Regions from separate parts of the Homo sapiens genome. Here regions 2 and 3 are each linked to region 1. Evidence: fine-mapped QTL for protein levels in blood plasma. A gene starts in region 1. Each other region holds a variant in brackets. All regions are shown on one strand. Distances are between the middles of the regions.

Evidence for each region. A credible set is the group of variants that fine-mapping cannot tell apart. PIP is the posterior inclusion probability: the model's chance that the variant is causal. The UK Biobank Pharma Proteomics Project read protein levels with antibody pairs (Olink). The fine-mapping took linkage between variants from a reference panel, not from the people measured, so its PIPs are less certain.
Region 2: its variant is the best candidate, but not a certain one, in a credible set for the plasma level of the FCRLB protein (UK Biobank, PIP 0.80).
Region 3: its variant is the best candidate, but not a certain one, in a credible set for the plasma level of the FCRLB protein (UK Biobank, PIP 0.52).

The regions. Positions count from the first base shown.
Region 1 is chr1:161,717,136-161,725,315 of GRCh38, reverse strand. It overlaps FCRLB (Fc receptor like B), which reads right to left and starts at 3,772. Exons shown (of 8, transcript NM_001002901.4): 1 at 3,655-3,772; 2 at 3,466-3,561; 3 at 2,613-2,663; 4 at 2,307-2,327; 5 at 1,695-1,949. The coding sequence starts at 2,643. RefSeq lists enhancers at 2,711-2,810, 2,891-2,990 and a silencer at 6,370-6,419.
Region 2 is chr1:161,616,285-161,624,464 of GRCh38, reverse strand. FCGR3B (Fc gamma receptor IIIb) reads left to right here. Exons shown (of 5, transcript NM_001244753.2): 5 at 1-1,269. It also overlaps the pseudogene RPS23P9. Among named protein-coding and RNA genes, the nearest start is that of TRL-CAA6-1, 8.3 kb to the right of the region's middle. The variant G/A (reference allele first, on the strand shown) is at 1,133.
Region 3 is chr1:161,691,126-161,699,305 of GRCh38, reverse strand. No RefSeq gene overlaps it. Among named protein-coding and RNA genes, the nearest start is that of FCRLA, 12 kb to the left of the region's middle. The variant C/T (reference allele first, on the strand shown) is at 632.

The sequences.
Region 1 (8,180 bases):
CACCCAGCAGCCTCATAGTGCAAGATATATTTGTAGGTGAGTGGGAAGGAAGGGGGATGGCTGGTCTTTCACTTAGCCAGGGAGCAAAGATGCCAGAGACTTGGCTCCACCCTCAAAGGGTTTTGACCATGAGAATCAACTATAACCTCCTTAGGATGGTGTCAGAGTCCTCCTGACTGGGTCCTGCTTACCTCTCCCTCACCATGGCAGTATTCATTCCTGCCCCATTTCCTCTCTACTTTCCTCATCTTCCACTCCTAACAGGATAAGTTCCAGCCATACTGAACTGTTGAGAGAACTGGCCCTGCTCTGAGCCCGAGGCTTTTGTACCTGCTATTTCCTCAGCCAAGAAGACTCTCTTTCACCTGTTTAAGTTCACCTGCTTGTCCTGCATGTCTAGGCTTAGACCTTATCTCCTCCAGAAAACATCCCTGACACCCCAGGAGAGCCTTAGGTATCTCCTACAGCACCTCATAATTACCCTGTGATCATTATAGCACGCTTACATAGCCCTAGCACAGAGCAGATGCCATTTTAGGTGTTGTACATTGAGAAAGAATCCTGCAAGTAATAGCCACAATCCACATGCACTCCCAATCTGTAAGCAGTAATTACTCCTATAGTACTCAGTATAATTATTGCTATCACCAATGATTTCCGAACAAGAAACCACAGAGTATGAATATGAAGTGTGTGTAAGTGCTAATCTGAACATTGAGTGATGTGCTTTAAATTCTGAATACAAATTGTGGCTAGGAGTGCACGATCTCAGCTCACTGCAACTTCCGCCTCCCAGGTTCAAACAATTCTCATGCCTCAGCCTCCTGAGTAGCTGGGACTACAGGCACCCGCTATCATGCCCAGCTATTTTTTTTTTTTTTTTTTTTTTTAGTAGAGAGTGTTTCACCATGTTGGCCAGGCTGGTCTTGAACTCCTGACCTCAGGTGATCTGCCCGCCTTGGCCTCCCAAAGTGCTGGGATCACAGGCTTGAGCCACCGTGCCCAGCAATCCTGTACTTTATTGAACAAATTATTGTTATTTTTCTTATCCTGTTTTAAAACCCTTCAAGCATCTCGAGAATCAGTTTCTCAGCTGACTCCTGTGTACACATATACACGTCTGCAATAAAACTTTGAGTAAGTGCTCAGTTCAATTGCTGCTTTTTTTCTTTAGCAAATCATAATTCACTTTTAATCCTCAGAGCAGCCGAAGAGATACATACTATTATTGTCCCTTCTTTACAGATGTGGACACTGAGGCACAGAGAAGCATCACACTGTTCAACTGAGAGTAGATCCTTGATCTATGCTCAGACTGCCAGGGAAACTCACCTTTCCTGTTTGGTGAATTTCCTTTACTGCTCCCTCCCCAACCCCCTAAAGTTCTCTGTCCAGCACTCCAGGTCCTTGGAGCCTTTGCTCTTCTGAGCTGGTCTCAGAAACAAACAGAAATGTTCACACTGTGCCTCACACTATGGCAGGAGGGTAAGGGGACCTTGGGGGCTAGGCATGCCTTACTGCATCTCTCGCATAGTGCCGTGCAGGTCCCTACCTGCTCCAGAGACTTAAGATAGGCCCCAGTGTGGCCCTTGTTTCCTGCACCTTGGGATTGGCCCAGTGTTCCCTCCCACCAGAGGACTAGTATTGCCAGAGGAGACACGTGCTCCCCCTCCCCTCGTGCTCAGTCCACTCACCATTGGATACAGAGAGGTGGATGGGGTCACTGACGGGTGCTCCCCGTGTCTGGCATCGATACACCCCTGGTGTCTGCACCTCAATGCTCTTCTTGTGAGAGGGCAGAAGTAGGTGGCCCAAATACCAGAGAGTGCTGATGGGCTGGAGCTCCAGGAGCAGTGGGTGGTATCCATCACACTTCAAAGTTACCCGCTCCCCTTTGAAGATGGTGGTCCAAGGTGGATGTAGAGACAATATGGGCTTCTCCAGAGTAGCTGGGGTGGGGAGTGGGGTGAGAGGGGGCAGCATGCAAAGAGAATCAAGGTGAGGTGCCCAAAGAAACGACCTGAGTTTGGGAAATCTTAGGAAACCCCAGCTCGCAGGCCCCAGCCCATGTACTAACCCATCCCTGCAGGAGAGGAGATCACATTCATTGGGTTACAGACTACCAGTCCATCAGCCAGCACCCATTTCTAAATGCCTTCAAGCAAATTTAGTCCCAGGGGTTGACGAGAGTGGGAAGAGACACTATCCCAGCGCAGCCAAGAAGTGAGGAGTCTACTTGAAAAGGTCACTTAGGGGGTTGGAGTGGAAGCTGTAGAAAATTGGGATGAGAAATTTATAAGACTCACCAGCTTGCCCACTGCTTGGAACTGCAGAACAGGAAAGAAGGAAGAGGAAGGAGAAGGAGAATATTGGCGATGAGAGGAGAGAGACTCTTGACGACAAGAAAGGCTGAATGGTCCCAAAACCTGTTTTTCTTCTTCTGCCCCTGGTTTCCCAAGCTCTGAGAAAGCCCCTTCTTCTTCACCCCTCCAAAAAAAGATAATGAACCACTTGGAAACTGAGGATTGGATACCCACCCTCCTCTCCCCATACCTTGGTCCACCCTATTCTCCACCACCCAAAGCTCTTCTGCTGCCTCACTGTGGACTCACCCAGGAGCAGAAGGGCTGTCAGTGGCCACATGATGGATCTGACTGCAGCAGCTGCAGAAGGATGGAGATGCACTGGCATGAGATGGGGAACAGAGAGAAAGAATGTGGCCAGTGGATGCCACTGAGTACTAGGAGACATTGCTGCTTCTCCCACCCACTCCTAGTTCCTGAAGATAGCAGACCAGAACCAGTGGGAGACAGGCTGAATATCAGGTATCCCAAGTGCCAGGCACTGTCTCATCTACCGCATCTACAGCCACCTCACAGCTCAGGCCAGCCCTGACTACTGAAAGGAAGGCCTGCAGAACTTGTGCCCTCCACAGCACAAGAGAGCCCCATAGAACCCCAGGCTCCAGCAGATGACCCCGCCATCTTCAGGCTCCCATTGACATCCCACTCCCATCCCATCCCTTCTCCACCTTCCAGCCAGCCCTGCAAGGCTCAGCTGAGGAAGACACGGCCTCATGTCCTTAAGGACCTTTTTCCTGCTCACTCCTGATGACAGACATTGGCATGAGACCTAGAGAGGTCAGTGTTCGGTTGCCTGCCCCCAGAGCTCACATCCTGCCACAATGAGTAGACGAAAAGGCATGACTCACCAACCACCCTTCACATCCCTATCATCTAGTTCCCCAGTCAAGGATAGAAATGCAATGTGTTTCTTCTTCCTCCCTTCCTGAAATCTTGAGTTCTCATAAATTCTTAAATTCTTAAGAAGTTAGAAAACTCTTCTTTCCTACCCATCCCAATGAGCTCATCCTGTGGCACTTCCAATCACTTGTTCTTTTCTTCCTTCCTCCCACCCTTCCCTGCAACCCCTCCCCAGCCACGCCCCAGTTCCAGAACTCCTGACCTGCAGCAGAGAAGTCACTGCATCGGCCCCTCAGAAGCCTCTCAGATCTGACCTCGGGGCTCTACTTCTTGTGCTTTCTGAGCCATGTGACCGTACCTGAGCAATGAGGAGAACCTGAATTTTCATGTAAATACTTAATGAATTTTCCAGCCTGATAGTGTGTCTCCTTGGACTCTATCCTGTCCTTACCTGTGGTTGTTTAGAACCGGGGCACCTTGATCCCTTGGAAATCTGATGGGAAGGAGATCAATTATCAGGTACTGTCAACTCCCAGGAAGATAGTATCTTCCCCTCTTGCTGATGCCTGAAGTTCCACTCTGAGAGTCCCCTCATATTTTGCTTAATGGACTAGCCCCTTTTAAAAATGCAAATGCCTCTTAGGAAAATGTGACTGGTCATTTAAATTATGCTGGTCACTTCAGATCATGTTTTGAGTGCAGGTTTTGATAAAAGAGATAGAGTCCTGTAGATTTCAAACAAAGTAGGGACATATTTGACAATGTGCCCAAGAGTAGGGGAGGCAGAGAAGAACTAATTACTGGGAACAGGGATGATCACCTGCCTGCTTTAGGAGTGCCTGGGCTGACCAGCACTCTTGTGCTTCCCCTCCATCCTAATAATTCCTCGTCTCAGGGCCAGTGTGTGGCTTCCCACATGATCCACAGCCTGCCACAGAGGTCTGACTTCTGCACCAAGCCACCACCTCAATGGTAAGAATGCAATGCAGTTGTCAGCTGTCCTCTTAGGCAACACAAGCTGGCTCTATTTTGGCTTCTCATCCCCCAGAGCACAGATCTCAGCCCCTTTACTCGATTCAGAAGAAACCTTAGTACACCAAAACTTTGTGAACTGTATAGTCGTCCCTAGAAACCTCTGGAACCATCCATACTGTTCATATTATACAGTGCTCAGAATTTGACTTGAAAAATTTCCCACGAAATATTTATTTATTCTAGGCTCTCCTCTAAGTTTTTCCCAAAGTGAGTCTTTTTACTCCATCTAGGACTTTTCCCCAGAATTTCTAATTCTTCACTCCTTTACAATGCAGAAAAATTTAGAAATTATCATTTGTAACTTGAGCAATTATTTGAGGCCTATCACAACATAACATCTGGACAATATATGTCACCATTTGATAAGCATTCTGGTGATAAAGTGTTCTCAGTGATAATTACAGTAATGAACTAATGCTGTTGTTGCTGATGACAGCTCACTTTAGTGTCTCGGCATGTGGCAGGCACTATGCTAAGTGCTTCACAGATATTACTGCACTTAATTCTTGTAAGGCCCTTTGAGGAAGAATTATTAATATCCCAATTTTGCATATGAGGAAACTGAGATGATGAAACTGGGATTTGAATAGAAGTCTGTCTCCAAAATCTGTTCTCTTATCTCTCTGATTGTCAGGGATTCAAGATGCTGCTCATGGCCGGCTGTCATTATTGGTCTTTGCAAGTTCCCCCTCTTATTGTCTTACCTTGTTGACTTTCACCCACATTATTGTCCTCCTCCCCTCCACATAAGCACCCACTGTAAAATGTTTACTGTGTGTTCCCATATACATGCTATTTTTTTTTGTGCTTTAAGTTCTAGGGTACATGTGCACAACGTGCAGGTTTGTTACATATGTATACATGTGCCATGTTGGTGTGCTGCACCCATTAACTCGTCATTTACATTAGGTATAACATGCAGTTTTTAGCTTTGAGAAATATTTAGTGTTGTTAATTTACATAAGTGGCATTGTGTTCTAGATATTATATTCACTTCTACTTTTAAAAATTAATCCCAGATGTTTCAAATTTGTTCAGATTGCTCTACATGCATCATGTTTATTGCTTTTGACTGCCCTAATATTCTTTTTTTTTGAGACGCAGTTTTGCTCTTATTACCCAGTCTGGCATGCAATGGCATGATATCAGCTCACTGCAACCTCCACCTCCTGGGTTCAAGCAGTTCTCCTGCCTCAGCCTCCTGAGTAGCTGGGATTACAGGCGTGCATCACCACGCCTGGCTAATTTTGTGTTTTTAGCAGAGATGGGGTTTCACCATGTTGGCCAGGCTGGTCTTGGACTCCTGACCTCAGGTGATCCACCCACCTCAGCCTCCCAAAGTGCTGGGATTACAGGCATGAGCCACTGCGCCCAGCCATGACTGCCCTAATATTCTATGCTTCTGCTACACTGCACTTGTCCATTCCCCTAACATCCTAGTTGCTGCCCACCCTCAGCTACCACAGACAATTCCACAATGGACTTCTTGGTACATATTGTGAGGGCTGGATGAATTAACATATGTAAAGGGCTTAGAACAGGGGTTGGCACATAGGAAGTTTCATGTAAGTTAGTACTGGTAAGGACATGATGCTTCCCTACAGAGCCCTGAAGCGCCTTTATGGGATACACACCTGAGAGCAAGACTGCAGAATTATGTTCATGAGTTACATGCACACTCATTCCAAAACTCAAATCTAATTCATCAGCAAGTCCTGATGACTCTACCTGCTACATTGATCTTTTTGTACAGTAATTTATTCACTGAGTCGCTAGAGAGATACTTTTAAAATGTTAACCATATTGTGTTACTTTCTCTCAAAATTCCCCATAGGTACCCTCAGAATAAGTTCCAAACACCTTCCCATGGTCTACAGGGCCCTACAAATCGGGCCTTTCTCTGACCCTTGGCCTCATTTCCTACAACTCTCCCCCTCACTCACTCTGATCTAGCCACATTGTGTTTAGAACAGTTGCTGGAACATTCCATGCTTAGTCTTGCTCCAGGGCCTCACTTGCTGTTCTTTCTGCCTGAAAGATTCTTATTCTCCTCCCAGATTTTTGTAAGTTTCACTTCCTCACTTCACTCAAATATTACTTCCTCAGAGAGATGGTCGCTAACCGTGCTATCTAAAATAGTATCTCCTCACTGTCATTTGCTGGCTCCATATTTTGCTTTATTTCTCTTCAATGTACTTGTCACCACCCGGAATTGTATTTGTTTGTTTGTGGTAGGTTCCCCCATTAGAATGTAAGCTCCATTGAGGCAGGAATTTTTTCTTTTTTGCTGATGTATCACCTACAGCAGTGACAGCACATAGCACGTGCTGTGTAAGTATTTGTGGCATAAACAAAGGAAGAGATTGAATACCGTGATATTACTCTCAAAAGTGGCTGCAGAAGCTTATACACCCACCAGCAATTCACGTGGCTCCCATTCCCTCTTGTCATCAATATTCAGTGTTTCTTACCTTTGTAATTTTATCAAACAAATTTTTCTTTTCCTAAATAAGAACATTTAAAATTATTCTTATTTTATTTTCTGTAACCCAGGATAGGGCTGATAATAATATATTTTTTAAAATTGCTATTGCTATTCTTTTTTTTTTTTTTTTAGACGGAGTTTCACTCTTCTTGCCCAGGCTGGAGTGCAATGGTGCAATCTCAGCTCACCACAACCTCTGCCTCCTGGATTCAAGCAATTCTCCTGCCTCAGCCTCCCGAGTAGCTGGGATTACAGGCATGCGCCACCATGCCTAGCTAGTTTTGTATTTTTAGTAGAAACAGGGTTTCTCCATGTTGGTCAGGCTAGTCTCGAACTCCAGACCTCAGGTGATCCGCCCGCCTCAGCCTCCCAAAGTGTTGGGATTACAGGCGTGAGCCACCGTGCCCGGCATAAAATTATATTCTTTAATGTAAACTTTTCAGCAAAAGGAAGGCATTTCGATACCAAAGGAGTGCAAAGGACAATTTCAGAATAGAGAGCAGAGTATTTCTTTACATTGAATGTCTTTAGCTTTATGAGAAATTCACACATAGTTAATGAAAACTAACAGTGCCTGTCTGAAGGAACTCTGGCAGGAAGGCTGTGCTGTAACTCTCCGTATTTCTCCACATCTCCTCTTGTCCAGTGGGAAGGGAGAAGGTTGATACCAAGAGGGAAGAAAACTTTTAAGAAGACAGGACTAGGGTGAGGCCTATCCCAACACACCCTCCTTAAACTTCCTCCTATGATTCTAGCAGGTCATTTTATCCCTTCCCTAGTCTCTTCTAAGTTGTAACTGAACCAAGTTTTTCTACCTTGGGCTACTGGGCTGGGTACAGAGAGCTTTGTGTTTGGGAGGTGCAATGCTACTCCATATCTGATCACCCAGACCTGTTAACACCTCTCAGATCATTACTCTCTATTCCTCCTGTCCCTAGCCAAGGCCCTTGTCTCAGAAGGCTGGATGAGAACAACAGCCTTCAAATCCACCTCCCTCAACCTCTCTTCTAGTCGCCCCATTCACCTTATACCAGAGTGCCAGAATAATCATCCTAAACATCACTTTTCACGAGTTCCTCCTTTACTCAAAATTTACCTACAGAATTCGATCAATTTTCTTATGGACATTTAAAGAGCCTCTATAGCACATTTAAGAGCCTCTGTAGTCTATTTACTTCTCCATTATTATTTCCTTCCGCTGAACTCTGTTTCAAAGGATTTGCCTTCTTTTTCCCTGACATCTGCATGCCAGTTTTCCCCTTTATGCCCTTGCTTACATCATCCCACTCTGGAACGTCCTTTCCTCTCTTCTCCTGTTCTGTAGATCTGTCATGTTTTTCAAGGCCCCACCCATGTATTATCTTCTTCATGAGATGCACCTGAACACTCCAGTCCCCAGTGAGCGATCTATTCCCTGAGTTCCTGTCTTGTTCATCATCATCCCCACTTCCAAGTGC
Region 2 (8,180 bases), 100 kb after region 1:
TCAAGACACATGACCCCCATCCCATGGGGGTAATAAGAGCAGTGGCAGCAGCATCTCTGAACATTTCTCTGGATTTGCAACCCCATCATCCTCAGGCCTCTCTACAAGCAGCAGGAAACATAGAACTCAGAGCCAGATCCTTTATCCAACTCTCGATTTTTCCTTGGTCTCCAGTGGAAGGGAAAAGCCCATGATCTTCAAGCAGGGAAGCCCCAGTGAGTAGCTGCATTCCTAGAAATTGAAGTTTCAGAGCTACACAAACACTTTTTCTGTCCCAACCATTCCCTCACAGCAAAGCAACAATACAGGCTAGGGATGGTAATCCTTTAAACATACAAAAATTGCTCGTATTATAAATTACCCAGTTTAGAGGGAAAAAAAGAAAATAATTATTCCTAAACAAATGGATAAGTAGAATTAATGGTTGAGGCAGGACCCTACAGAGTGTGGGAACTGCTGGGGATCTAGAGAATTCAGTGGGACCAATGAAAGCATGGCTGAGAAATAGCAGGGTAGTCCAGGATAGTCTAAGGGAGGTGTTCCCATCTGAGCCCAGAGATAAGGGTGTCTTCCTAGAACATTAGCCGTAGTGGAATTAACAGGAAATCATGAGGGTGACGTAGAATTGAGTCTTCCAGGGGACTCTATCAGAACTGGACCATTTCCAAGTATATAACGATGAGTCCTCTAATGCTAGGAGTAGAAAATGGTCCTAGGAAGGGGACTGAGGATTGGGGTGGGGGTGGGGTGGAAAAGAAAGTACAGAACAAACCCTGTGTCACTGTCTCAAGTTAAGCTAAGTGAACAGAACTATCTCAGCATCAGAATGAGAAAGCCTGAGAAGAAAGAACCAACCAGAAGCACACAGGAAGGAAAGCGCAGGAGGTGAAAATGCTTTCTTGGCCGGGGTAGTAAGAATTAGAGGTTAATGCAGGGACTGTAAAACCACCTTTTCTGCTTCAATGTCTAGTTCCTGTATAGCTTTGTTCATTGCATTTATTAAACAAATGTTGTATAACCAATACTAAATGTACTACTGAGCTTCACTGAGTTACGCTGTGAAACTTTCAAATCCTTCTTCATGTCAGTTCCAATGAGGTGGGGATGGAGAAGACAATTGTTGCTTATGAAA[G/A]AAAGCTTTAGCTGTCTCTGTTTTGTAAGCTTTCAGTGCAACATTTCTTGGTTCCAATAAAGCATTTTACAAGATCTTGCATGCTACTCTTAGATAGAAGATGGCAAAACCATGGTAATAAAATATGAATGATAAAATTCTTTCTTCTTCCCTTTGTCCAACATTGTAACAGAGATTGGTTTGGATTGGTAAGAAACACCCCCTCCTCCCAGCAGCCATCTCACCACAACTCATATGAATTAGCCAGCTTGCTTTCCAAATCTTGCTGAGAAAATTGGGCTAAGGGGGATTCTTATGGGAAGTATGGGATAGGAGGGTGAATAAGCATTAGAGATCGTTTTAGAGCATTGGGGCAGATAGGAGAAGGCACAGCTACACAGGAGGTAGAGGCCTGGGCAGAGGTAGAGGGTCAGCCTGATTGTATGAATTATGAGCTATATACCAAGACGATTCAAGCTAGATTACATACATAAATATTACATAAGATTCCGACACGACACAGGTGCATTTGGAAACCTTGGACATTCAACTCACATTTATTTACTACCTACAATGTGCAAGCTTGAGTTCAGGTGCTGAAGATACCAGATGAACAACACAGGGTCATTCCCTGGAGAAGCTTTATTTCTAGTGAGAAAAACAGTTAAATAGGAAGAGAATGAAGAAAGGGCTGCAGAAAAGAGGCTTGATTTGGGGGGTGTGGTCATGAAGGATGAGTAGGAGTTCGCCAGGCAAAGAAGAGAAGAAAAGCCCAAGGTTCATAGGCAAAGATTCAAAAGCCAGAGTGTGAGTTCAAGAAAGCAGTTTGGTTCTGTGTCGGTGAGGGAGAGGAAAGAGTTTCAGGGCCAGATCATGAAGGGCATTACCTTCCAAACTAAGAAGATCGTATCAGACCCTGCAATACATTGAGAGAGTTTAAGCAGACCAGGTTTATACCGTATAGTATTTTAGAAGGATTCTCTGGCAACTACTTGATGGATGGACGGGACAGGAGAGCTGAAGACCGGAAACCAGATAGGGCATGCAAGGCAGGATGCAATAACCCAAAGGGAGCAATGAGGAAGTAACTGGCGGTGAGGCTGGAGAGGAAGGTGCTTAATCAACAAGGTATTTAGGAGGCCGACTCTCCAAGAATTGGCAGCCGGCAGTACATGGCATGACTAAGGACCAGGTTCCACACATAGTGCCCGTTTTCTGAGTTAGGAAATAGAAAGGCAAGGCAGGTACAGGTTTGGTGGAAAGACAAACAATTTGTTTTGGTATTATTAGTACTTACTTCCTTTGGTCAGTAAATTTTCTTAAAGTGTCAGTTTCCATAACGTAATTGCAGTGGTTAAGCAGCTAAGAGTTATCACTACAACCCTAGTCGGAAAAACCAAATACCTCAAAATTACCCGTACAGCACTAAGGCAGAAGAGGACATTGGGAACCACACAACGCGGAGGTCAGCTGCCAGGGATCCCGGCGGTTAGCACCGCGGCTGGTTTTGAGAGCCAAGGCTCCAGCGCTCCCGGCGGATAGCATCGCACGCGGTTTTTTTCAGTGAAAGTTTCAAAAACTCAAGGTTCACAAAAGTGGGACTTCTGTCCCGGGGTGGGAACGAACCACCAACCTTTCGTTTAACAGCCGAAGGCGCTAACCGATCGCGCTACAGAAACGGGCGTTGGCGACCTGGGCTGCCAAGTCACTTCACTGAAGAAAAAATGCTCAGCACTCTTACGTCTCCAAAAAATTTGAAGTTGATTTGAAACCAGTGACACAATTAGCTTTCCGTGCTTCAGGGCGCGGCTCACAGCCCTGAGCGAGGCAGGTCTTTTTTCCGCGCTAGCACTTGCCTAGATCTGGAGCAGGACTCAGCTTCCAGCAGAAGAGGCTGAGAAAGGGAGAGCAGAAGAGGATGCAGGAACGAAGGGTCTTCGGGGAATCCAAAATGGATGCTCTCTGTGATTTCGGGGGTTCCGTTGATTTTGGTCAGAGAAATACGACGATAAGCTTTTTTTGCTGATGTAGACAACTTATGTATGCATGTGCACACGTTTAGTGCTGACTCATAAAAAGGTTATTGTCGTGAGCATTAAAAATATTTTCTTTCAGGTCCAATCACGTCCAGCAAAATGTGATATCTAAGTAAGTGAGTTTTGTGTTACAAAATTAGTCTTCAACCCACGCTGTTTTGAAAGGTTTCTACGGGCATATTAGCCATGCAGACAGAACACGGAGCTTAAAAAGCCTGTAACATTCCAATTAATGGTATTCAGCTTGGAAATAAAAAATATTTTTTAAAAAATGCCTGCAACTTAAGGACTTTCATGCTGACATATCCAGATCCAAATGTCTGAGGACAGAGACCCCTAATTCCACCACCATCGACCTAGGGAATCTCGTCAGTGCTGGGTCTAAAAAGCCTTTTTTTTCTTTAATTCATATATATATACTTCAAGTTCTAGGCTACATGTGCACAAGGTGCAGGTTTGTTACATATGTATACATGTGCCATGTTGGTGTGCTGCACCCATTAACTCGTCATTTACATTAGGTGTTTTTCCTAATGTTATCCCTCCCCCCTTCCCCACCCACGACAGGTCCCGGTGTGTGATGTTCCCCACCCGTGCACACGTAAGTTTATTGCGGAAATATTCACAATAGCAAAGACTTGGAACCAACCCAAATGTCCATCAATGATAGACTGGAGTAAGAAAATGTGGCACATATACACTATAGAATACTATGCAGCCATAAAAAAGGATGAGTTCATGTCCTTTGTAGGGACATAGATGAAGCTGGAAACCATCAGTCTAAACAAACTTTCGCAAGGACAGAAAATCAAACACCGCATGTTCTCACTCATAGGTGGGAATTGAGCAATAAGAACACTTGGACAAAAGCCATTTTCTATACTGCCCAAGACCCAGGGCCTCTCCATAGCCTCCACACAGAATCTCCTTTCTTTCTGCCCTGCCATCCTCTGTCATCAGTGGGCTCCAGTTTAGTTGCAGGTGGAAGTTTTCAATGATGTTTAGTGAAATGAGAAGACATGCAAACATAGATATGCATATGCAGAAATTATATATGCATATATGTTTATGTGTACACATATTTTATATCTTATGTAAAATACATATATGTGTATCATATGTATACTAAATAAGTAAATAAATAAATTTGCCAAATGATCTTTAAACTAGAGTCATTTATTTTTTTTTAATTAATTTTTTTTTTTGAGATGGAGTCTTGCTCTGTTGCCCAGGCTGGAGTGCAGTGGTGCGATTTCGGCTCACTGCAACCTCCACCTCCCACATTCAAGCAATTCTCCTGCCTCAGCCTCCTGAGTAGCTGAGAAGATTACAGTCATGGGCCACCATGCCCGGCTAATTTTTGTGTTTTTTTTTTTTTTTTTGAGACAGAGTCTCGCTGTCGCCCAGGTTGGAATGCAGTGGCGCGATCTCGGCTCACTGCAGGCTCCGCCCCGCAAGGTTCACGCCATTCTCCTGCCTCAGCCTCCCGAGTAGCTGGGACTATAGGCGCCTGCCACCTCGCCCAGCTAATTTTTTTGTATTTTTAGCAGAGATGGGCTTTCGCTATATTGGCCAGGCTGGTCTCAAACTCCTGACCACAGGTGATCCTCCCGCCTCAGACTCCCAAAGTGCTGGGATTACAGGCAAGAGCCACCGTACCAGGCCTAGAGTCATTTCTTTTATTTTAAATTTTTGTCTCTGTTCTTTTGCTCAGACCTGTGGAGCTGGCAATATGGGCAAGTGTCATGGACTGTCTACCTCCAGGAAGCTCCATTGTCACCGACAGGATCAGAAGTGGCATGGTAAATGGTACAAGAAAGCCCATTCGGGCACAGTCCTGAAGACCAGCCCTTTTGGAGGTGCTTCTCATGCAAAGGGAATTGGGCTGGAAAAAGTAGGGATTGGAGCCAAATAGCCCAGCTCTGCCACTGAGAAGTGTGCCAGGGCCAAGCTGATCATCCAGCATAAGCTAGATGCTGTGGTCTCCACTGGCACAGCTGATCCTCTTGTTACAGGTTGGAGGCTGTGAGGCAGATGAGAGAACAGCAAGAAAATCACAGCCTTTGTACCTGATGATGATTGCTTGAATTTTATTGAAAAAAATGATGAAGTTCTGTATCAGGGGAACCAGCACCCAATATTTCAATGTAGGTTCTTTTCTATTTTCCCTAAGTGTTGACCGGTCTGAGAAATGAAGAGAAAGAGTACAAAGAGAAAAATTTTACTGCTGGGCCGCCAGGGGTGACATCACATATTGGCAGGTTCCATGATGCCCACCTGAGCCACAAAACCAGCAAGTTTTTATTAGGGATTCTAAAAGGGGAGGGGGTGTACAAACAGGGAGTAAGTCACAAAGATCACATGCTTCAAAGGGCGATAAAAGATCACAAGGCAAGGCAAAATTAGAATTACTGATGAGGGCCTATGTCCCGCTGTGCACACATTGTCTTGATAAACATCTTAACAGGAAACAGGGTTCGAGAGCAGACAACTGGTCTGACTAGAATTTACCAGGCTGGAATTTCCCAATCCTAGTAAGCCTGAGGGTACTGCAGGAGACCAGGGTGTATTTCAGTCCTTATCTCAACCACATAAGACTGAGACTCCCAGAGCGGCCATCTATAGACCTACCCCCAGGAATGCATTCCTTCCCCAGGGCTATCAATTATTAATATTCCTTGTGGGGAAAAGAATTCAGCAATATTTCTCCTACTCACATGTCCATCTATAGGCTCTCTGCAAGAAGAAAAATATGACACTATTCTGCCCGACCCCACAGGCAGTCAGACCTTACAGTTATCTTTCCTTGTTCCCTGAAAATTGCTGTTATTCTGTTCTTTTTCAGGGTGCGCTGATTTCATATTGTTCAAACACAGATGTTTTACAATTTGTACAGTTAACGCAACCATCACAGGGTCCTGAGGTGACACACATCCTCAGCTTACGAAGATGACAGGATTAAGAGATTAAAGAGAGGCATAAGAAATTATAAGAGTATTGATTGGGGAAGCGATAAATGTCCATGAATTCTTCACAATTTATGTTCAGAGATTGCAGTAAAGACAGGTGTAAGAAATTATAAAAGTATTAATTTTGGAAACTGACAAATGTCCATGAAATCATCACAATTTATGTTCTTCTGCCTCGGCTCCAGCTGGTCCCTCCGTTCAGGGTCCCTGACTTCCTGCAACAGTTCTGGTTGCTGGATTTGGCAGAAAAGGTCATGCTGTTGGTGATATTCCTGGAGTCCACCTTAAAGTTGTTAAAGTAGCCAATGTCTCTCTTTTGGCCCTATCAAAAGCAAGGAGGAAAGACCAAGCTCATCAGCTTTAATGGTGAAAACCCAATAGTAATAAGTTTTCATTTGCCAAAATAAGTTGTTTTTAAATGTCCTTTCTTTTTTAAAATTAAAATTAGGATAGATGATAGTTTTGTGGCTATTTGTTTTATGAATTTCACAATTTGGCAAAATGAAAAGTTGGCCACCCTATACTAGTAACCAACTTTTCTGATGTCATTAGAGACAGGGTCTTGCTCTATCACCTAGGTTGGAGTGTAGCTGCACGATCTTAGCTCACTGCAGCCTGCAACTCTCAAGCTCAAGCAATCCTCCTGCCTTAGCTTCCCAAGTAGTTGGGATTACAGGCTTGAGCCACCTCGCCTGGCCAGTAACCAACATTGTGGGGAAATTTTGTTCATCTGTGAAGTTCAAGTTTGGAACTACCACTCTGTGCTTTACCTCCATTGTTGGATTGACAGCAGAAATAAAAAGTTATTAGTTTCCAGTTGATTGTGAATACACATACATTTCCTGTGCTACATTTTACATGTATGTGACAGCAATGCAAAAGCAGGAGAGTAAAAAGGAAGAATTTTTAAAGAATAAAAGAATAGCTCTCCCTCTCCCTCTCCCCCTCCCCCTCCCCTCCCCCTCTCCCCACAGTCTCTCTCTCCCTCTCTTTCCACGGTCTCCCTCTGATGCCCAGCCGAAGCTGCACTGTGCTGCTGCCATCTCGGCTTACTGCAACCTACCTGCCTGATTCTCCTGCCTCAGCCTGCCGAGTGCCTGCGATTGCAGGCGCACGCCGCCACGCCTGACTGGTTTTCGTATTTTTTTGGTGGAGACGGGGTTTCGCCGTGTTGGCCGTGCTGGTCTCCAGCTCCTAACCGCGAGTGATCTGCCAGCCTCGGCCTCCCAAGGTGCCGGGATTGCAGACGGAGTCTCGTTCACTCAGTGCTCAATGTTGCCCAGGCTGGAGTGCAGTGGCGTGGTCTCGGCTAGCTACAACCTCCACCTCCCAGCCGCCTGACTTGGCCTCCCAAAGTGCCGAGATTGCAGCCTCTGCCCGGCTGCCACCCCGTCTGGGAAGTGAGGAGCGTCTCTGCCTGGCCTCCCATCGTCTGGGATGTGAGGAGCCCCTCTGCCCGGCTGCCCAGTCTGGGAAGTGAGGAGAGCCTCTTCCTGGCCTCCATCCCATCTAGGAAGTGAGGAGCATCTCTGCCCGGCTGCCCATCGTCTGAGATGTGGGGAGCGCCTCTGCCCCGCCGCCACGTCTGGGATGTGAGGAGCACCTCTGCCCGGCCGCGACCCCGTCTGGGAGGTGAGGAGCGTCTCTGCCCAGCCGCCCCGTCTGAGAAGTGAGGAGCCCCTCCGCCCGGCAGCCGCCCCGTCTGGGAAGTGAGGAGCGCCTCTGCCCGGCAGCCACCCCATCTGGGAGGGAGATGGGGGGCGACTCTGCCCTGCCACCGCCCCGTCCGGGAGGTGGGGGGTGCCTCTGCCCGTCTGCCCCTTCTGGGAAGTGAGGAGCCCCTCTGCCCAGCCGCCACCCCGTCTGTGAGCTATACCCAACAGCTCGTTGAGAACGGGCCATGATGACGATGGCGGTTTTGTGGAATAGAAAAGGGGGAAATGTGGGGAAAAGATAGAGAAATCAGATTGTTGCTGTGTCTGTGTAGAAAGAAGTAGACATGGGAAACTCCATTTTGTTCTGTACTAAGAAAAATTCTTCTGCCTTGGGATGCTGTTGATCTAT
Region 3 (8,180 bases), 26 kb after region 1:
TAATTTTTATTTTACTTTAAGTTCTGGGATACATGTGCAGAAAGTGCAGGTTGTTACATAGGTATACAAGTGCCATGGTGGTTTGCTGCACCTATCAACCCATTATCTAGGTTTTAAGTCCCGCATACATTAGGTATTTGTTCTAATGCTCTTCTTCCCCTTACCCCTACCCCCTGACAGAGCCTGGTGTGTGATATTACCCTCCCTGTGTCCATGTGTTCTCATTGTTCAACTCCCACTTATGAATGACAACATGTGGTGTTTGGTTTTCTGTTCCTGTGTTAGTTTGCTGAGAATGATGGTTTCCAGCTTCATCCATTTCCCTGTAAAGGACGTGAACTCATCCTTTTTTATGGCTGCATAGTATCCCACTGTTTATATGTCCCACATTTTCTTTCTCCAGTCTATCATTGATGGGCATTTGGGTGGGTTCCAAATCTTTGCTATTGTAAATAGTGCTGCAATAAACATATGTGTGCAGGTGTCTTTATAGTAGAATGATTTATAATCCTTTGGGTATATACCCAGTAATGAGATTGCTGGGTCAAATGGTATTTCTGGTTCTAGATCATTGAGGAATCACCACACTGTCTTCTTCCACAATGGTTGAACTAATTTACACCCCCACCAA[C/T]AGTGTAAAAGCGCTCCTGTTTCTCTATCTGTTGTTTCCTGACTTCTTAATAATCACCATTCTAACTGGTGTGAGATGGTATCTCATTGTGGTTTTGGTTTGCATGTCTCTAATGACCAGTGATGATGAGCTTTTTAAAATATGTTTGTTGGCCCCATAAATGTCTTCTTTTGAGAAGTGTCTGTTCATAACCTTCGCCCACTTTTTGATTGTTTTTTTCTTGTAAATTTGTTTAAGCTCCTTGTAGATTCTGGATATTAGACCTTTGTCAGATGGGTAGCTTGCAAAACTTTTCTCCCATTCTGTAGGTTGCCTGTTCACTCTGGTGATAGTTTCTTTTGTTGTGCAGAAGCTCTTTAGTTTGATTAGATCCCATTTGTCAATTTTGGCTTTTGTTGCCATTGCTTTTGGTGTTTTAGTCATGAAGTCTTTGCCCATGCCTATGTCCTGAATGGCATTGCCTAGGTTTTCTTCTAGGGTTTTTATGGTTTTAGATTTTTACATTTAAGTCTTTAATCTATCTCGAGTTAATTTTTGTATAAGGTGTAAGGAAGGGGTCCAGTTTCTGTTTTCTGCATATGGCTAGCCAGTTTTCCCAGCACCATTTATTAAATAGGGAATCCTTTGCCCATTGTTTGTTTTTGTCAGGTCTGTCAAAGATCAGATGGTTATAGATGTGTGGCATTATTTCTAAGGTCTCTGTTCTGTTCCATTGGTCTACATATCTGTTTTGGTACCAGTATCATGCATTTTGGTTACTGTAGCCTTGTAGTTTTGTTTGAAGTCAGGTTGCATGATGCCTCCAGCTTTGTTCTTTTTGCTTAGGATTGTCTTGGCTATACGGGCTGCTTTTTGGTTCCACACGAAATTTAAAGTAGTTTTTTCTAAGTCTGCAAAGAAAGTCAATGGTAGTTTCATGGGAATAGCATTGAATCTATAAATTACTTTGGGCAGTATGGCCATTTTCATGATATTGATTCTTCCTATCCATGAGCATGGAATGTTTTTCCATTTGTTTGTATACTCTCTTATTTCCTTGAGCAGTGGTTTGTAGTTTTCCTTGAAGAGGTCCTTCATGTCCCTTGTAAGTTGTATTCCTTGGTATTTTATTCTCTTTGTAGCAATTGTGAATGGGAGTTCACTCATGATTTGGCTGTCTCTCTGTTGGTGGTGTATAGGAATGCTTGTGATTTTTGCACATTGATTTTGTATCCTGAGACTTTGCTGAAGTTGCTTATCACCTTAAGGAGTTTTGGGGCTGAGACAATGGGGTTTTCTAAATATACAATCATGTCGTCTACAAACAGAGACAATCTGACTTCTTCTCTTCTTATTTGAATACCCTTTACTTCTTTCTCTTGCCTGATTGCCTGGGCCAGAACTTCCAATACCATGTTGAATAGGAGTGATGAGAGAGGGCATCCTTGTCTTGTGCTGGTTTTCAAAGGGAATGCTTCCAGCTTTTGCCCATTTGGTATGATATTGGCTATGGGTTTGTCATAAATAGCTCTGATTATTTTGAGATATTTTCCATCAATACCTAGTTTATTGAGAGTTTTTAGCATGAAGGGATGTTGAATTTTATCGAAGGCCTTCTCTGCATCTATTGAGATAATCATGTGGTTTTTGTCATTGGTTCTGTTTATGTGATGGATTACCTTTATTGATTTGTGTATGTTGAACAAGCCTTGCATCCCAGGGATGAAGCCAACTTGACCATGGTGGATAAGCTTTTTGATGTGCTGCTGGATTTGGTTTGCCAGCATTTTATTGAGGATTTTCTCATCGGTGTCCATCAGGGATATTGGCCTGACATTTTCTTTTTTAGTTGTGTATCTGCCAGGTTTTGGTATCAGGATGATGCTGGCCGCATAAAATGAGTTAGAGATGAGTCCCTCTTTATCTATTATTTGGAATAGTTTCAGAAAGAATGGTACCAGCCTCTTTATACCTCTGGTAGAATTCAGCTGTGAATCTGTCTGGTCCTGGGCTTTTTTTGGTTGGTAGGTTATTAACTACTGCCTCAATTTCGGAACTTGTTATTGGTCTATTCAGGGATTCAACTTCTTCCTGGTTTAGTCTTGGGAGGGTGTATGTGTCAAGCAACTTATTCATTTCTTCTAGAATTTCTTGTTTATTTGTGTAGAAGTGTTTGTAGTATTCTCTGATGGTAGTTTGTATTTCTGTGGGATCAGTGGTGATATTCCTTTTATCATTTTTTTGCACATCTATTTGATTCCCCTCTCTCTTCTTTATTAGTCTAGCTAGTGGTCCATGTATTTTGTTAATCTTTTCAAAAAACCAGCTCCTGGATTCACTGATTTTTTGAAGTGTTTTTCATGTCTCTTATATATTTCAGTTCTGCACTGATCTTAGTTATTTCTTGTCTTCTGCTAGTTTTTGAATTTGTTTGCTCTTGCTTCTCCAGTTCTTTTAATTGTGATGTTAGGGTGGTGATTTTAGATCTTTCCAGCTTTCTGTTGTGGGCATTTAGTGCTATAAATTTCCCTCTACACACTGCTTTAGCTTTGTCCCAGAGATTCTGGTATGCTGTCTCTTTGTTCTCATTGGTTTCAAAGAACTTCTTTATTTCTGTCATAATTTCATTATTTACTCAGTAGTCATTCAGGAGCAGGTTGTTCAATTTCCATGTAGTTTTGCAGTTTTGAGTGAGTTTCTTAAACCTGAGTTCTAACTTGATTGCACTGTGGTCTGAGAGACTGTTTGTTATGCTTTCTGTTCTTTTGCATTTGCTGAGGAGTGTTTTTCTTCCAATTATGTATTAAATTTTAGAATATGCGCTATGTGATGCTAAGAAGAACGTATATTCAGTTGATTTGGGGTGGAGAGTTCTGTAGATGTCTATTAGGTCCACTCGGTCTAGAGTTGAGTTCAAGTCCTGAATATCCTTGTTAATTTTCTGTCTCATTGATCTGTCTAATATTGACAGTGGGGTGTTAAAGTCTCCCACTATTATTGTGTGGGAGTCTAAGTCTCTTTGTATGTCTCTAAGAACTTGTTTTATGAATCTGGGTGCTCCTGTATTGGATGCATATATATTTAGTATAGTTAGCTCTTCTTGTTGCATTGATCCCTTTACCTTTATGTAATGCCCTTCTTTGTCTTTTTTGATCTTTGTTGGTTTAAAGTCTGTTTTATCGGAGACTAGGATTGCAACCCCAGTTTTGTTTGTTTGTTTTTGTTTTGTTTTGTTTTTTGTTTTCCATTTGCTTGGTAAATATTCCTCCATCCCTTTATTTTGAGCCCATGTGTGTCTTTGCACGTGAGATGGGTCTCCCAAATACAGCACACCAATGGGTCTTGACTCTGTATCCAATTTGCCAACCCGTGTCTTTTAATTGGGGCATTTAGCCCATTTACATTTAAGGTTAATATTGTTATGTGTGAATTTGATCCTGTCATCATGCTGCTAGCTGGTTATTTTGCACATTAGTTGATGCAGTTTCTTCATAGTGTCATTGGTCTTTATATTTTGGCGTGTTTTTGCAGTGGCTGGTACCAGCTTTTCCTTTCCATATTTAATGCTTCCTTCAGGAGCTGTTGGAAGGCAGGCCTGGTGGTGGCAAAATCCCTCTGCATTTGCTTGTCTGGAAAGGATTTTATTTCTCCATTTATGAAGTTTAGTTTGGCTGGATATGAAATTCTGGGTTGAAAGTTCTTTTTTTAAGAATGTTGAATATTGGCCCCCACTCTCTTCTAGCTTGTAGGGTTTCTGAAGAGAGATCTGCTGTTAGTCTGAGGGGCTTCCCTTTATAGATAACCTGACCTTTCTCATTGGCTGCCCTTAAAATTTTTTCCTTCATTTTGACCTTGGAGAATCTGAAGATTACGTGTCTTGGGGTTGCTCTTCTTGAGGATTATCTTAGTGGTGTTCTCTGTATGTCCTGAAGTTGAATGTTGGCCTGTCTTGCTAGGTTGGGGAAGTTCTCCAGAATAATATCCTAAAGTGTGTTTTCCAACTTGGTTCCATTCTCCCCGTCACTTTCAGGTACACCAATCAATTATAGGTTTGGTCTGTTCACACAGTCCCATATTTCTTGGAGGCTTTGTTCATTCCTTTTCATTCTTTTTTCTCTAATATTTTCTTCATGCCTTATTTCAGTAAGTTGATCTTCAATCTCTGATATCCTTTCTTCCACTTGATCAATTTGGCTACTGATACTTGTGTATGCTTCACGAAGTTCTCGTGCTGTGTTTTTCAGCTCCATCAGGTCATTTATGTTCCTCTCTAAACTGGTTATTCTAGTTAGTAGTTCCTGTAACCTTTTATCAAGGTTCTTAGCTTCCCTGCATTAGGTTAGAACATGCTCCTTTAGCTCAGAGGAGTTTGTTATTACCCACCTTCTGAAGCCTACTTCTGTCAATTCGTCATTCTCATTCTCCTTCCAGTTTTGTGCCCTTGCTAGAGAGGAGTTGTGATCATTTGGAGGAGAAGAGGCATTCTGGTTTTTGGAGTTTTCAGTGTTTTTGCATTGGTTTTTCCTCATCTTCATGGATTTATCTACCTTTGATCCTTGAGGCTGATGACCTTTGGATGGGGTTTTGGTGTGGGGTTCCTTTATGTTGATGTTGATGTTGTTGCTTTCTGTTTGTTAGTTTTTCTTCTAATAGGTCCCTCTTGTGCAGTTTGCTGGAGGTCCACTCCAGACCCTGTTCACCTGGGTATCACCAGTGGAGGCTGCAGAACAGCAAAGACTGCTGCCTGCTCCTTCCTCTGGAAGCTTCATCCCAGAGGGTCACCAGCCTCATGCCAGCCAGAGCTCTCCTGTATGAGGTGTCTGTCAACCCCTGTTGGGAGGTTTCTCCCAGTCAGGAGACTCGGGGGTCAGGGACCCACTTGAGGAGGCAGTCTGTCCCTTAGCAGAGCTGGTGCGCTATGCTGGGAGAATCCCGCTAGTCAGGATCAGCTGCTCTCTTCAGAGCCAGCAGGCAGGAACAATTAAATCCGCTGAAGCTGTGCCCACAGCCGCCCCTTCCCTCAGGTGCTCTGTCCAGGGAGATGGTGGTTTTGTCTGTAAGCCCCTGACTGGTGCTGTTACCTTTCCTTCACAGATGCCCTGCCCAGTGAGGAGGAATCTAGAGAAGCAGTCTGGCCACAGCCGCTTTGCCACGCCCAGCCCAGACCTCCCAGCCTCCTAACCACTGTCTGAAAAATCGCCTACTGAAGTCTCAGTAATGGCGGACGCCCCTCCCATGACCAAGCTCAATTGTCCCAGGTCTACTTCAGACTGCTGTGCTGGCAGCGAGAATTTCCAGCCAGTGGTTCTTAGCTTGCTGGGCTCTGTGGGAGTGGGACCTGCTGAGCGAGACCACTTGGCTCCCTGGCTTCAGCCCCCTTTCCAGGGGAGTGAATGGTTCTGTCTCACTGGGGTTCCAGGAGCCACTGGGGTACAAAAAAACTCCTGCGGCTAGCTCCGTGTCTGCCCAAACAGCTGCCCAGTTTTGTGCTTGAAACCCAGGGCCCCAGTGGTGTAGGCACACGAGGGAATCTCCTGATGTGCAGATTGCAAAAACCGTGGGAAAAGCGTAGTAACCCAGCTGGGTAACACAGTTCCTCACAGCTTCCATTGGCTGGGGGAAGGGAGGTCCCTGGCCCCTTGCACTTCCTGGGTGGAGCATCACCCCATCTTGCTTCTGCTCGCTCTCCACGGGTTGGACCCACTGCCTAACCATTTCCAGTGAGATGAACTGGTTACCTCAGTTGGAGATACAGAAATCACCAGCCTTCTGAGTTGGTCTCGCTGGGAGCTGCAGACCAGAGCTGTTCCTATTTAGCCATCTTGGCCCCTCCCCCCTTGAAAATTCCATTTCTTTAATAGATATAGGGCTATTGAGGCTATTTCTCCTTAAATGAACCTAGATAGTTTGTGTGCAGCTGTCAAGGAATTTGTCCATTTTATCTAAGTTGTCATATTTATCTATATAAAGTTTTTCATAATATTCGTTTATTATCTATTTACCGTCTATAGCAGTACTGATGGCTTTTGAATACTAGCACGGCTAATTGCAAATCTATAGTCATGTCACCTGTCTCATTCCTAAGATTTAAAAATGCACTGCAGGACACAAAGTTATTCCACACACCTCGACTTAGCTTATTTGTGTATTTCTTCCAAGAGAAAAAAAAAAAAGAGGCCAGGCATGGTGGCTCACGCCTGTAATCCCAGCACTTTGGGAGGCTGAGGCAGGTGGATCACTTTAGGTCAGGAGTTTGAGATCAGCCTGGCCAACATGGCGAAACTCCGTCTCTACTAAAATACAAAAAGTAGCTGGTCGTGGCGGGCGCCTATAGTTCTAGCTACTGGGTAGGCAGAGGCAGGAGAATCGCTTGAACCCGGGAGGCAGAGGTTGCAGCGAGCCAAGATAGAGCCACTGCACTTCATCCTGGGCGACAAAGTGAGACTCCGTCTCAAAAAAACAAAACAAAAAAAAAAGGAAGGTAAGAGAAGCACAGAGAGAGGGATGGAGAGAGGAAGGGGAGAGGGAAAGAGAAAGAAAGAATTCACTCAGAACCAGTTTCAGGTTGTTCAGGTAGAAGCTGGAAGTCTCCACATAAGCTAGACATGAATTGACATGCCCCTTTCTGGGTACCTATTTCATCACCTGTTAAACTTTTAGAATACACATTCAGAAAGCATACACAAAGATGCTCTGAGTTCTCCCATGCACCAGATCTCCCACGCACCAGGGAGTGGCCCCAGTTTCTAAGGAAAGCCAATCCCTTACCGTCAGGTCACTGGAATTATGGGAAGCTCATTCTACTGCCAGGTGGGCCTCATTTTCGTAAAGAAAACTCACATATTCCTGGAAGACAGTGTCCTGGGCTATTTTTTCTACCTGACTGCTAGCAGCAAATAAAATATTTAAGAATTTATGGAGTATAGTGCCCTGAATTCCTTCCCTTGGAAATTGAAATTGCTTGAGGTTCTTAGGCCACAAACAATTTTTAAAATAGGTGTATGTTTTTTTTCTTACTCTCTTTGTGATGGCTCTGCAGATTTGTTCAGCAAAATGACTCCTTAACAGAGTTATCCTGAGCTGGTATATCAGAGACAGGAAGGCTTCTGCTGGAGCCTAAGGTTTCTCTCCTCTCTCTTAGCTGCTTTATTTGAGACTGCCAGCATAGGGCACAGCCTTCAACTCTCAGCTCACCATGGATTTGTTAATTAATTGAAATAATTCTCCCAATTTTTGCATTGAAGTAGAATATCTTACAGAACCATGAGCTTCTTTCCCCTAACATGAATAACTGAGAAAATGAAGGTATCAGTGATCCACTTCCAATTTGACAGAGCAATTTTACAAGTATTTATTTTGTGCAGGAGTATATAGATGTAAATTAAAACATTATTGCTCAGGCGACAGATTTTGAAATAATATCAAAATGAAGAATGGATTTATTTTTGAAGATAATTTTCACAGGATGTGGCAGTTTTTAAAGGAATTCTGCAAGTTCTCATTGCTCAAATTTTACTTCCAAGGACAGATTGTTATCAACAGAACAGGTTGCAAACAAATATGAATATCC